2 separate regions of the Homo sapiens genome follow, and region 2 is linked to region 1. A link means that fine-mapping ties the variant in region 1 to the expression of a gene that starts in the linked region. Tissue or cell type: whole blood. Region 1 holds a variant in brackets; the other region holds the start of a gene. Each region is shown on its reference strand, or each on the opposite one. Region 1 has its middle 7.5 kb from the start of CREBBP. Region 2 holds the start of ERF (ETS2 repressor factor).

Region 1 (5,368 bases):
GCTCTAGCCTGGGTGACAAAATGAGACTATGTCTCAAAAAAAATAAATAGGCCGGGTGCAGTGGCTCATGCCTGTAGTCCCAGCACTTTGGGAGGCCGAGGTGGGCAGATCACGAGGTCAGGAGATCGAGACCATCCTGGCTAACACGGTGAAACCCTGTCTCCACTAAAAATGCAAAAAATTAGCCGGGCGTGGTGGCGGGCGCCTGTACTCCCAGCTACTCAGGAGGCTGAGGCAAGAGAATGGCGTGAACCCAGGAGGCAGAGCTTGCAGTTAGCCAAGATCGCGCCACTGCACTCCAGCCTGGGCGACAAAGCAAGACTCTGTCTCAAAAACTAACTAACTCACTCACTAACTAAATAAATAATTAAATAAATGCAAATTGGAAATTCCCCCTACAGTTGAGGATGGCTATACTCTATGTGCCAGACATCTTCTGGATAGCCCTCGAATCGATCCCTTCACCCCTTTCCACGTTGCCCTGGCCTCAGGAGGCTGACTTGGACAGGCTACCATGCCTTGGGCTTGGGTTCCTAGTGGGCACCCTGGCGGGAGATCAGAAGGAAGGAAAGGCTGGGCGCATTGGCTCACACCTATCATCTCTGCACTTTGGGCAGCTGCAGTGGGAGGATTGCTCGAGCCCCGGAGTTTGAGACCAGCCTGGGCAACATGAGACCCTGTCGCTACAGAAAGTAAAAAAAAAAAAAAAAATAGCCGGTGTGGTGGCACATGCCTGTAGTCCCAGCTACTCGGTGGGCTGAGGTGGGAGAACTGCTTGAGCCTGGGTGGTCAAGGCTGCAGGGAGCTGTGATCGTGCCACTGCACTCCACCCTGAGACCCTGTTAGAAAGAAAGAGAGAGAGAAAGAGAAAGAGAGAGAGAGAGAGAGGAAGACAGACAGGAAAGAAGGAAGAAGGAAAGCCAGGCATGGGACTCACGCCTGTAATCCCAACATCTTGGGAGGCAGAGGCAAGGGGATTGCTTGAGCCCAGGAGTTCAAGATCAGCCTGGGCAACAAAGCATGACCTATCTCTACAAAAAAATTTTTAAAAAAATTTTAAAAAAGGAAACTGGCCAGGTGCGGTGGCTCACACCTGTAATCCCTGCACTTTGGGAGGCGAGGTTGGGCAGATCACCTGAGGCCGGGAGTTTGAGACCAGTCTGGCCAACATGGTGAAACCCTGTCTCGACTAAAAATACAAAAATTAGCCAGGCATGGCGGCATGTGCTTGTAATGTCAGTTACTCAGGAGGCTGAGACAGAAGAATCGCTTGAACCCAAAAGGTGGGGGTTACAGTGAGCCAAGATCACGCCACTGCACTCCAGCCTGGACAACAGAACGAGACTCCATCGAAAGGAAGGAAGGAAGGAAGGAAGGAAGGAAGGAAGGAAGGAAGGAAGGGAGGGAGGGAGGGAGGGAGGGAGGGAGGGAGGGGAGGGGGAGGGGGAAGGGAGGGGAGGGGAAGGAAAGAGAAGAAGAAAGGAGAGAAGGAAGGAAGGGGAAGGGAAGGGAAAAGGAAGGGAAAGGGAAAGGGAAGGGAGAAAAAAAGAAAGAGTGGTCACGGTATTTGGTCACCTCAAGTCAGCTGAGTCCCTCTGCAAAAGATCACCCCTCTCAAGATGACCATCTCTACACAATTATTTTCTTTCCGGGTCTGGGAAGCTTTCCCTTCTGTGTCCCTTTGGGCCTTGTGGCAGTAACAGCTCAGCTGCTACAAGCCCTAGGTTGCTGCCCTATCCCTTATGGTTTCCTTGCAACCCGCCCTAACTGTGTACGCAGTTCCTCTATGAAACCTTCCATAAGCTGGCTGATTCTACGGGGGCTCTGCCTGCTATAACCTTAAACCCAGGAAATCCACTTCTCAGTGTTCATCTGGTGATGCTCTTAGGTGCACAAGGAAACCTGTACAAGAACATTAATTGCAGCCCCGTTTGTAACAGGAAAAAAGTGGAAACAATCTACCAGTCCCTTAGGAGGAGAATAGATCAATAAAATGTGCTTTGTTCCTGCAGTAGAATACAAGACAGCGGCTAAAAGGAATGAACTGAAAGATAGCACTCATCGGGATGACTATTATCAGAAAAGAAAAGAACAAAACAGCATAAGTGTTGGTGAGGAAGTGGAGAAATTGGAACCCTTGTACACTGCTGG[C/T]AGGAATGTAAAATGATGCAGCTGCTATGGAAAACAGTATGGGAGTTCCTTATAGAATCAAAAGTAGAATTACCATATGAGACAGCAATTATCCCACTTCTGGGTATATACCCAAAAGAACTGAAAGCAGGCCGGGTGCGGTGGCTCACGCCTGTAATCCCAGCACTTTGGGAGGCTGAGGTGGGAGGATCACTTGAGCCCAGGAGTTTGAGACCAGCCTGTGTAACATGGCAAAACCCCATCTCTACTAAAATACAAAAATTAGCCGGGCATGATGGCGGGCACCTGTAGTCCCAGCTACTCGGGAGGCTGAGGCAGGGGAATCGCTTGAACCCCAGAAGCAGAGGTTGCAGTGAGCTGAGATCGCGTCACTGTACTCCATCCTGGTGACAGAGCAAGACTCCATCTAAACACAAACAAAAAAAAGAATTGAAAGCAGGGTTGGGAAGAAAAGAAATACATCCACGTTCACCACAGCATTAATCATGATAGCTGCATGGTGGAAGCAGTTCCGTATCCGTCAACAGATGAATGGATAAGCAAACTGTGGTCCATCCATACGATGGAATATTCATCGTTCATAAGGAAGGAAATTCTCTATGGGCACGGTGGCTCATACCTGTAAACCCAACACTTTGGGAAGTTGAGGTAGGAGGATCACTTGAAGCCAGGAACTCAAGATCAGCCTGGCCAATACAGCAAGACTCCAAAAAAAATTAGCTGGGCATGGTGGTGCACACCTGTAGTCTCAGTTACTTGGGAGGCTGAGGCAGGAGGATCACTTGAGCAGGAGAGGTCAAGGCTGCATTGAGCCATGACTGTACCACTGCACTCCAGCCTGGGTGACAGAGCAAGACCATGTCTCAAAAATAAAAATAGGCTGGGCACGATGGTTCACGCCTGTAATCCCAGCACTTTGGGAGGCCGAGGCGGGCAGATCACCTGAGTTCAGGAGCTCGAGACCAGCCTGGCCAACATGGTGAAACCCCCAACTCTACTAAAAATACAAAAATTAGCTGGGCATAGTGGCGGGTGCCTGTAGTCCCAGCTATTTGGGAGGCTGAGGCAGGAGAATCACTTGAACTCAGGAGGCAGAGGTTGTGGCGAACTGAGATCGTGCCACTGCACTCCAGCCAGGGGGACAGAGTGAGACTCCGTCTCAAAATAATAATGATAAAATAACATAAAATAAAAATAAACACAGGGCATGGGAGAAGAGGAAATGAGCCCAGCCTTTGTAGACACCCTGTTCAAGTTTCCTTAGCTAGGAATGGAAGAGACAGGGTGGAATCAGGGCTGAAGCTGAAGCTGACTGCCAATGTGTTTAAGGAAAAGGAGGTACTGGGGTAAGTAAGGGAGAAAAGATTCAGGGGCAGTGATGGTAAAAAGCAACAGCAGAAGCTCTTTAGTTTAATTAGATCCCAATTGTCAATTTTGGCTTTTGTTGCCATTGCTTTTGGTGTTTTAGACATGAAGTCCTTGCCCATGCCTATGTCCTGAATGGTAATGCCTAGGTTTTCTTCTAGGATTTTTATGGTTTTAGGTCTAACGTTTAAGTCTTTAATCCATCTTGAATTAATTTTTGTATAAGGTGTAAGGAACGGATCCAGTTTCAGCTTTCTACATATGGCTAGCCAGTTTTCCCAGCACCATTTATTAAATAGGGAATCCTTTCCCCATTGCTTGTTTTTCTCAGGTTTGTCAAAGATCAGATAGTTGTAGATATGCGGCGTTATTTCTGAGGGCTCTGTTCTGTTCCATTGATCTATATCTCTGTTTTGGTACCAGTACCATGCTGTTTTGGTTACTGTAGCCTTGTAGTATAGTTTGAAGTCAGGTAGCGTGATGCCTCCAGCTTTGTTCTTTTGGCTTAGGATTGACTTGGCGATGTGGGCTCTTTTTTGGTTCCATATGAACTTTAAAGTAGTTTTTTCCAATTCTGTGAAGAAAGTCATTGGTAGCTTGATGGGGATGGCATTGAATCTATAAATTACCTTGGGCAGTATGGCCATTTTCACGATATTGATTCTTCCTACCCATGAGCATGGAATGTTCTTCCATTTGTTTGTATCATCTTTTATTTCACTGAGCAGTTGTTTGTAGTTCTCCTTGAAGAGGTCCTTCACATCCCTTGTAAGTTGGATTCCTAGGTATTTTATTCTCTTTGAAGCAATTGTGAATGGGAGTTCACTCATGATTTGGCTCTCTGTTTGTCTGTTATTGGTGTATAAGAATGCTTGTGATTTTTGTACATTGATTTTGTATCCTGAGACTTTGCTGAAGTTGCTTATTAGCTTAAGGAGATTTTGGGCTGAGACAATGGGGTTTTCTAAAGAAACTACCATCACAGTGAACAGGCAACCTACAAAATGGGAGAAAATTTTTGCAACCTACTCATCTGACAAAGGGCTAATATCCAGAATCTACAATGAACTCAAATAAATTTACAAGAAAAAAACAAACAACCCCATCAAAAAGTGGGCGAAGGACATGAACAGACACTTCTCAAAAGAAGACATTTATGCAGCCAAAAAACACATGAAAAATGCGCACCATCACCGGCCATCAGAGAAATGCAAATCAAAACCACAATGAGATACCATCTCACACCAGTTAGAATGGCGATCATTAAAAAGTCAGGAAACAACAGGCGCTGGAGAGGATGTGGAGAAATAGGAATGCTTTTACACTGTTGGTGGGACTGTAAACTAGTTCAACCATTGTGGAAGTCAGTGTGGCCATTCCTCAGGGATCTAGAACTAGAAATACCATTTGACCCAGCCATCCCATTACTGGGTATACACCCAAAGGACTATAAATCATGCTGCTATAAAGACACATGCACACATATGTTTACTGCGGCTTTATTCACAACAGCAAAGACTTGGAACCAACCCAAATGTCCAACAATGATACACTGGATTAAGAAAATGTGGCACATATACACCATGGAATACTATGCAGCCATAAAAAATGATGAGTTCATGTCCTTTGTAGGGACATGGATGAAATTGGAAATCATCATTCTCAGTAAACTATCGCAAGAACAAAAAACCAAACGCCGCATATTCTCACTCATAGGTGGGAATTGAACAATGAGAACACAAGGACACAGGAAGGGGAACATCACACTCTGGGGACTGTTGTGGGGTGGGAGGAGGGGGGAGGGATAGCATTAGGAGATATACCTAACGCTAAATGACGAGTAAATGGGTGC
Region 2 (5,368 bases), not on the chromosome of region 1:
AGAAGTAGCAAAGGTTGGGTGTAACAGCCAGGTGTGGTGGCTCACACATGTAATCCCAGCACTTTGGGAGGCTGAGGCTGGCGGATCACGAGGTCAGAAGATTGAGACCATCCTGGCTAACACGGTGAAACCCTGTCTCTACTAAAAATACAAAAGATTAGCCGGGCGTGGTGGGGGGCGCCTGTAGTCCCAGCTACTCAGTAGGCTGAGGCAGGAGAATGGCGTGAACCCGGGAGGCGGAGCTTGCAGTGAGCCGAGATGGGGCCACTGCACTCCACCCTGGACGACAGAGTGAGACTCCGTCTCAAAAAAAAAAAAAAAAGGTTGGGTGTAACTCATCTCTGTCTTGCTGGTGGGAGGGTAGGGGTCACTGGGTTTGTTACTGATGTGTTATCTTTTTGTTTGTTTGTTTGTTTTGAAACTGAGTTTCGCTCTTGTTGCCCAGGCTGGAGTGCAATGGCGCGATCTCAGCTCACCGCAACCAACCCCCTCCCGGGTTCAAGCGATTCTACCTTAGCCTCCCGAGCAGCTGGGATTACAGACATGCACCACCAAGCCCGGCTAATTTTTTGTATTTTTAGTAGGGACGGGGTTTCTCCATGTTGGTCAGGCTGGTCTCGAACTACAGACCTCAGGTGATCCACCTGCCTCGGCCTCCCAAAGTGCTGGGATTACAGGCGTGAGCTACCGCGCCCAGCCTTTTTATTTATTTATTTTTAGACGGAGTTTTGCTGTTACCCAGGGTGGAGTGCAGCGGAGCGATCTCGGCTCACTACAGCCTCCGCCTCCTGGATTCAAGCGATCCTCCTGGGTTCAAGCGATTCTCCTGCCTCAGCCTCCTGAGTAGCCGGGATTACAGGTGCGCCACCACGCCTGGCAAATTTCTGTACTTTTAGTAGAGATGGGGTTTCACCATGTTGGCCAGGCTGGTCTGGAACTTCTGACCTGAAGTGATCTCCCGCCTCGGCTCCCAAAGTGCTAGGTTTACAGGCGTGCGCCACTGCGCCGGGCCCTGATGTAGTATCTTTGAAAATCTGCATTTTTTTTTTTTTGGAGGGGGTAGTAAAAGAGGTAATAAAGCATAATGGTAAAGGGTAAATGTGGTGGTTTGGAATTGGTTAGATCTGGGTTCGAATCTTAGTTCCAATACTTCCTGGCTGTAAGATTTAGTGGACTGATTTTCCCTCAGAGAGCATCACTTTCTTTATCTGTAAATGGGGATAACAGCAGTAATTCCCCTCGTTGGGATTTTGTGAGGATTAAATGAGAAGATGCCCCTGACAATGCTTGGCCCGGTGCCTGGCACATCATGAACACTCGGAATTCGGGAGCTGTTATTCGAACAATGAAGATGATTATTATTGCTGGACCACACCGCTCCCAGAGGGTTACAATATCCGTGGGGGAGCTGTACTGTCCGTAGGCAAGGTTACATAATTCCCGGGGGTTGTGGGGGAAAGCTTCCCTGGAGCCCTTGGTCTCCCCAAGGAGGAGGCCTGAGACTTTTTTTTTTAGGCACTGGTGAGGAGCCTGTCTAAGGTGGACTAGGTACCCCGCAAGCGAGGAGGCTGGGATTGAAGCCCTGGGTACCGGGAGCCTGAGCTCCGCAGGCCTTCCCTATCTGTGACTTTTCTGTCTCCCCGCCCATCTTCTGGATTCGTCCCCCACCCAGCCCCCCCAACTCCCGCCCGCCACCCATACGCCCCTCCTTCGGAACCTCAGAGTCTTTTTTGAGACTCTGTTTCCAGGCTATGCCTGTGAATATTGCTTCTATTTGGCCTCTACCCTGCTGCCGGCTCCTGGGCTCCATCAGATCTGCGCTGTGATTTCCTGTTTCCCAGAGCCTCAGGCTTCATCCTTCCCTCCCGGCTGAGGCAGAGAACGGAGACTTAACACTTCTCTACGCTCTGGCTTTCGATCTTAAGCCCTGTCTTCCTCTCTCCTGGCGACCCTCAGTGCCCCTTGGGAGCACATTTGTTCAGACTTTGGTCGCCCCCTCGTATCCCGGCCCCGCCTCCGGAACCCCCGGTCCTAGTAGTGGACGTGGGGGGACCTCCGGCGCCAGCCCTATCCCCGGGACAGCTGCAGCCTGGGGACGGTGGTGGTGGGGGCTTCCAAATGCATTCTCTCTGGTCACTTCCTCCCCAGCTGGACGGGGGTTATCAGGGAAGCCAAGACCCCATCCCCACAGGAGCGGAGGGCACAGCCGCCTCCCCATTTCCGATGCTGGGAAATGCATCCCACCCATTCCACCCCACCCCTGGACAGCTGCCCCCATTCAGGCTCAGGGTTGGGGGGTTGGGTAAAACCAAGCTGGGAAATGCTGTGGTCTTCATCATCTTCTAAGGTCCTGACCCCGCCCCTCTGCAGAGAAGATTCTGCCCCCTCCCCACAAAAGTTTCTGACCCCCGCTTCCTCGGAAGGGCCCCCCGTTTTCCCATACAGGCTCCCAAAAGAAACTCTGGAGCCCGCAGTGGGCAGGAGAGGAGGAGGGGCAGCAGGTAGCGAGTGCCGAAGACTTAAGTTAGCTGCAGACTCGGAGCCTCTGACTAGGGTCATGACCCGCGGGACCCCATCCCACCCCCACCCCCTCCTTCCTCCCTCCCCCGCCGCGCGGCCCCTTTAAGCCCAGAGCCGGCCGGTCCTCAGTGGCTGCGCGCCGACGAGCGTGTGTGTGAGTGCGCGGGGAGGGGGCGGGCGCAGTGTCTCCATGGCGACGCGGCGGTGACGTCGCCGGCCGGGGGGCGTGGGCGTCCCGGCCCCGGAGTGCGATATTAACCCGGGAGGCGGCGGCGGGGAGGGGAGAGGCTCTGAGAGGCGAGGCCGGGTGAGGCGGCGAGGGCGGCCCGACGGGCGCGGGACGGGACGGGGCAGCGAGGGCGCCGGGAGCCGCGGCCCGGAATCGGGGCGCTTCGCCCCGGGCCCCCCAGCATGAAGACCCCGGCGGACACAGGTGGGGGCGGGGGCAGCACGTGTGGGGGAGACTTGTTGCCCCGGGAAACCGAACGGAGAAACTTTGGGGGGGCTGAAGGGGTCCGGGGGAGCCCGAGTGATCCCCAGTTCTGGGGGACCCCTCAAGCACTGGAGACCTGTTGCTTCTCGTGGCGCGAGCGGGGTTGCTGCCTGGGACCCCCGATTCCTGGCTCCGGGCGGAGTGGTGTGGGTGCTGCGGGTCTTGGTCCTGTATCCCTACCGGGACCCCGCAGGCCGGGCTCTCCCCCACTCCCGGGATCACGGGGGTGGCGGGGTCCTTCCCCTCCGCTCTTGTCACGTTGCACTCTGGGGGCCGGGACGTGTGCGGGGCGGGGGGGCTCGTCCACCGGGCCCGCTATCCCTGGTTCTGCGCTGCGCGGTCCTGCTGGTGACCTTCACGGCGGCGCGTGCCCTGCACCAGGTTAGCGGGGGATACGGGATGGCCTCTAGGAGGAGGGCGTGAGTGGGGAGCCCGGGACTCGGGGTCCTGGCTGCGCCGCCCCTCCCCCGCCCGCCTCTGTCGGCTCCTCGCTCCCCCGCCCTCGCCGAGTCGCAAAGTTCCAAAGCGCAGCCCGAACGTTCGAAAAAGGAACTTTTTGTTTCCGACCTTAGAACGCGCGGCTTTAAGGTGGCTCCGGGGAGACCTGGGTACCCTCCTCCCGCGCCACCGGTGGCCCGGGGTTGAGGAGGGTGGGGAAGGTGGGGGGAGACGCAGAGGCTCCCCCCTCGCCCCCCCTCCCGGATCCACCTCTTCTCTTTCAGCGGGCCGTCTCTTCCCTCCGCCCCTCTCTTCCCCGCCAACTTGCTCCTCCTTAAGGGGCCAAGGTTCCCCTCCCCCTCGGTCGGCGGGCGGGGGGCAGCGGGATTAACTCCCCCTCCCACTCGGACTTTTCCCCCTCCCCTCCCCCGCCGCCCCCGGGCTCGCGCGGGCTGGACTTTGCGCCCGAGCGCGCAGGGGGAGGGGTCCCAGCCGCCCCCTGCCCGTCTACCCCGTCGGAATCCGGCCCGGGGCGGGGACGGGGGAGGGGGAAGGGGGCCGGGCGCCGCTGTTCAAACTTGTTTCCTTCCCCCGGCGGCGGCGGCGGCGGCGGCGGCGGCTCGGGCTCCTGTGTGCGGGTGTGTGCCCCGACCGGCCCACCCACCCCACCCCATCCCCACCCCATTCCCACCCCATTCCCATCCCCATCCCCCTGCTCGGCGGGTGGGGGCGGCTTAATCTTAAAGGGCTCCGAGCTGGGATCCGGCGCCAGGGGATTGGGACCCGGACCGAGGAGGGGCCCTGGGGGTGGGGCCGGGGTGCGGAGTGCGGTAGGGTCAGTCACGTGCGTCCTACACACTCCCCCGGCTTCCACTCGCTCCCGGGTGGCTGGGCCCTGGGGGCAGCAGGAGCCTACCCTCGCCCAAGGAGGAGGCCGAGGCACCCAGACAACCTCGCTTCATCTTCTCTCCCTGCTACCGGCCTTGGCCTGATAGGATCCGCGGGTCGCTTCCCCAACCCTGTCGGGGGGCGGGACAGTGTGTGGGTTTTCCGGCTGGGGGAGGGGAGGGGAAGGAGGCCTGGAATGGCCTCCGATCGGTGCATCTTTCCCGTCTGCCTCCTGGCCTGCCGCTCCGCACCCCTCCATCCAGTTCTCCATCCCGGTCCCTCTCTCTGCCGTGGCTGTTTCCCACTTCCTGTTTTCTTCCCGGCTCTGGCGCCATAGAGGGCCGCCTGGAGTGGGGGAGGTGGTGGGGCCCCCCAGGAGGCCGGCGTGTTCTTCCTCTGCCACCACTCCTCCCTTCCGACCCTCATAGTCCCTTAAAAAAAGTTTGGGCCGTCACGTGAGGTTGGGGGGTGCCCAGGAGTTTTGTCCCCCCAGGCTTGCATAGTCTGTCTGGGAGAATCCCTACCCCGCCTCTGTGGGACCCAGGTGTGCTTCTGGGACCTCGCCATCCCAGCCCTTGCTGTCTGACTGCTGCCACTTCTGCACTCTGTCTCGCAGTCTCCTGAACCCCTCTCTCCATGTGCCTGCTCTCTCCCTGCCTCACTGGCCCCCATGTTCCCGAGGTCCCGCACCCCCAAGCTTCCTCCGTGCAGGTCTGGTGTTTCCCTGTTTTAAGCACGTGGACGCATACACAGCACACTCACACATGCTCCCCTTGCCCGTGCCTGGCTCCTGGCTCCAAGGCCTGGGGAACAGAGCCCCATTGAGACACCCTGACGTCACCCCCTCTTCATTCTCCCCCCCCCAAAGCCGGGAACAGGCCTTCATGTATGCTGTGTCCGATGAGGAAAGCCGCCGTTGTGGTGGGCTTGGGAGTGGGGAAGGGTCCCTGCCAGAAGTGGGAGCCAGGGTCCAGGCCCTGGAGGAGGGGTTGCTCAGGGAAGGGGTTTAACAAGGGGGCCTGGGACAGC

What was found. PIP is the estimated chance that this variant, and not a neighbour inherited with it, causes the effect.
Region 2: it holds the start of ERF, and the variant in region 1 is fine-mapped to the expression of ERF in whole blood (TOPMed, PIP 0.98).

The regions. Positions count from the first base shown.
Region 1 is chr16:3,885,490-3,890,857 of GRCh38, reverse strand. No RefSeq gene overlaps it. Among named protein-coding and RNA genes, the nearest start is that of CREBBP, 7.5 kb to the right of the region's middle. The variant C/T (reference allele first, on the strand shown) is at 2,152.
Region 2 is chr19:42,252,563-42,257,930 of GRCh38, reverse strand. ERF (ETS2 repressor factor) reads left to right here and starts at 2,803. Exons shown (of 4, transcript NM_006494.4): 1 at 2,803-2,953. The coding sequence starts at 2,932. RefSeq lists enhancers at 1-779, 1,575-2,106, 2,747-3,246 and silencers at 2,602-3,001, 3,012-3,701, 3,782-3,851, 3,942-4,061, 4,082-4,131 and 1 more.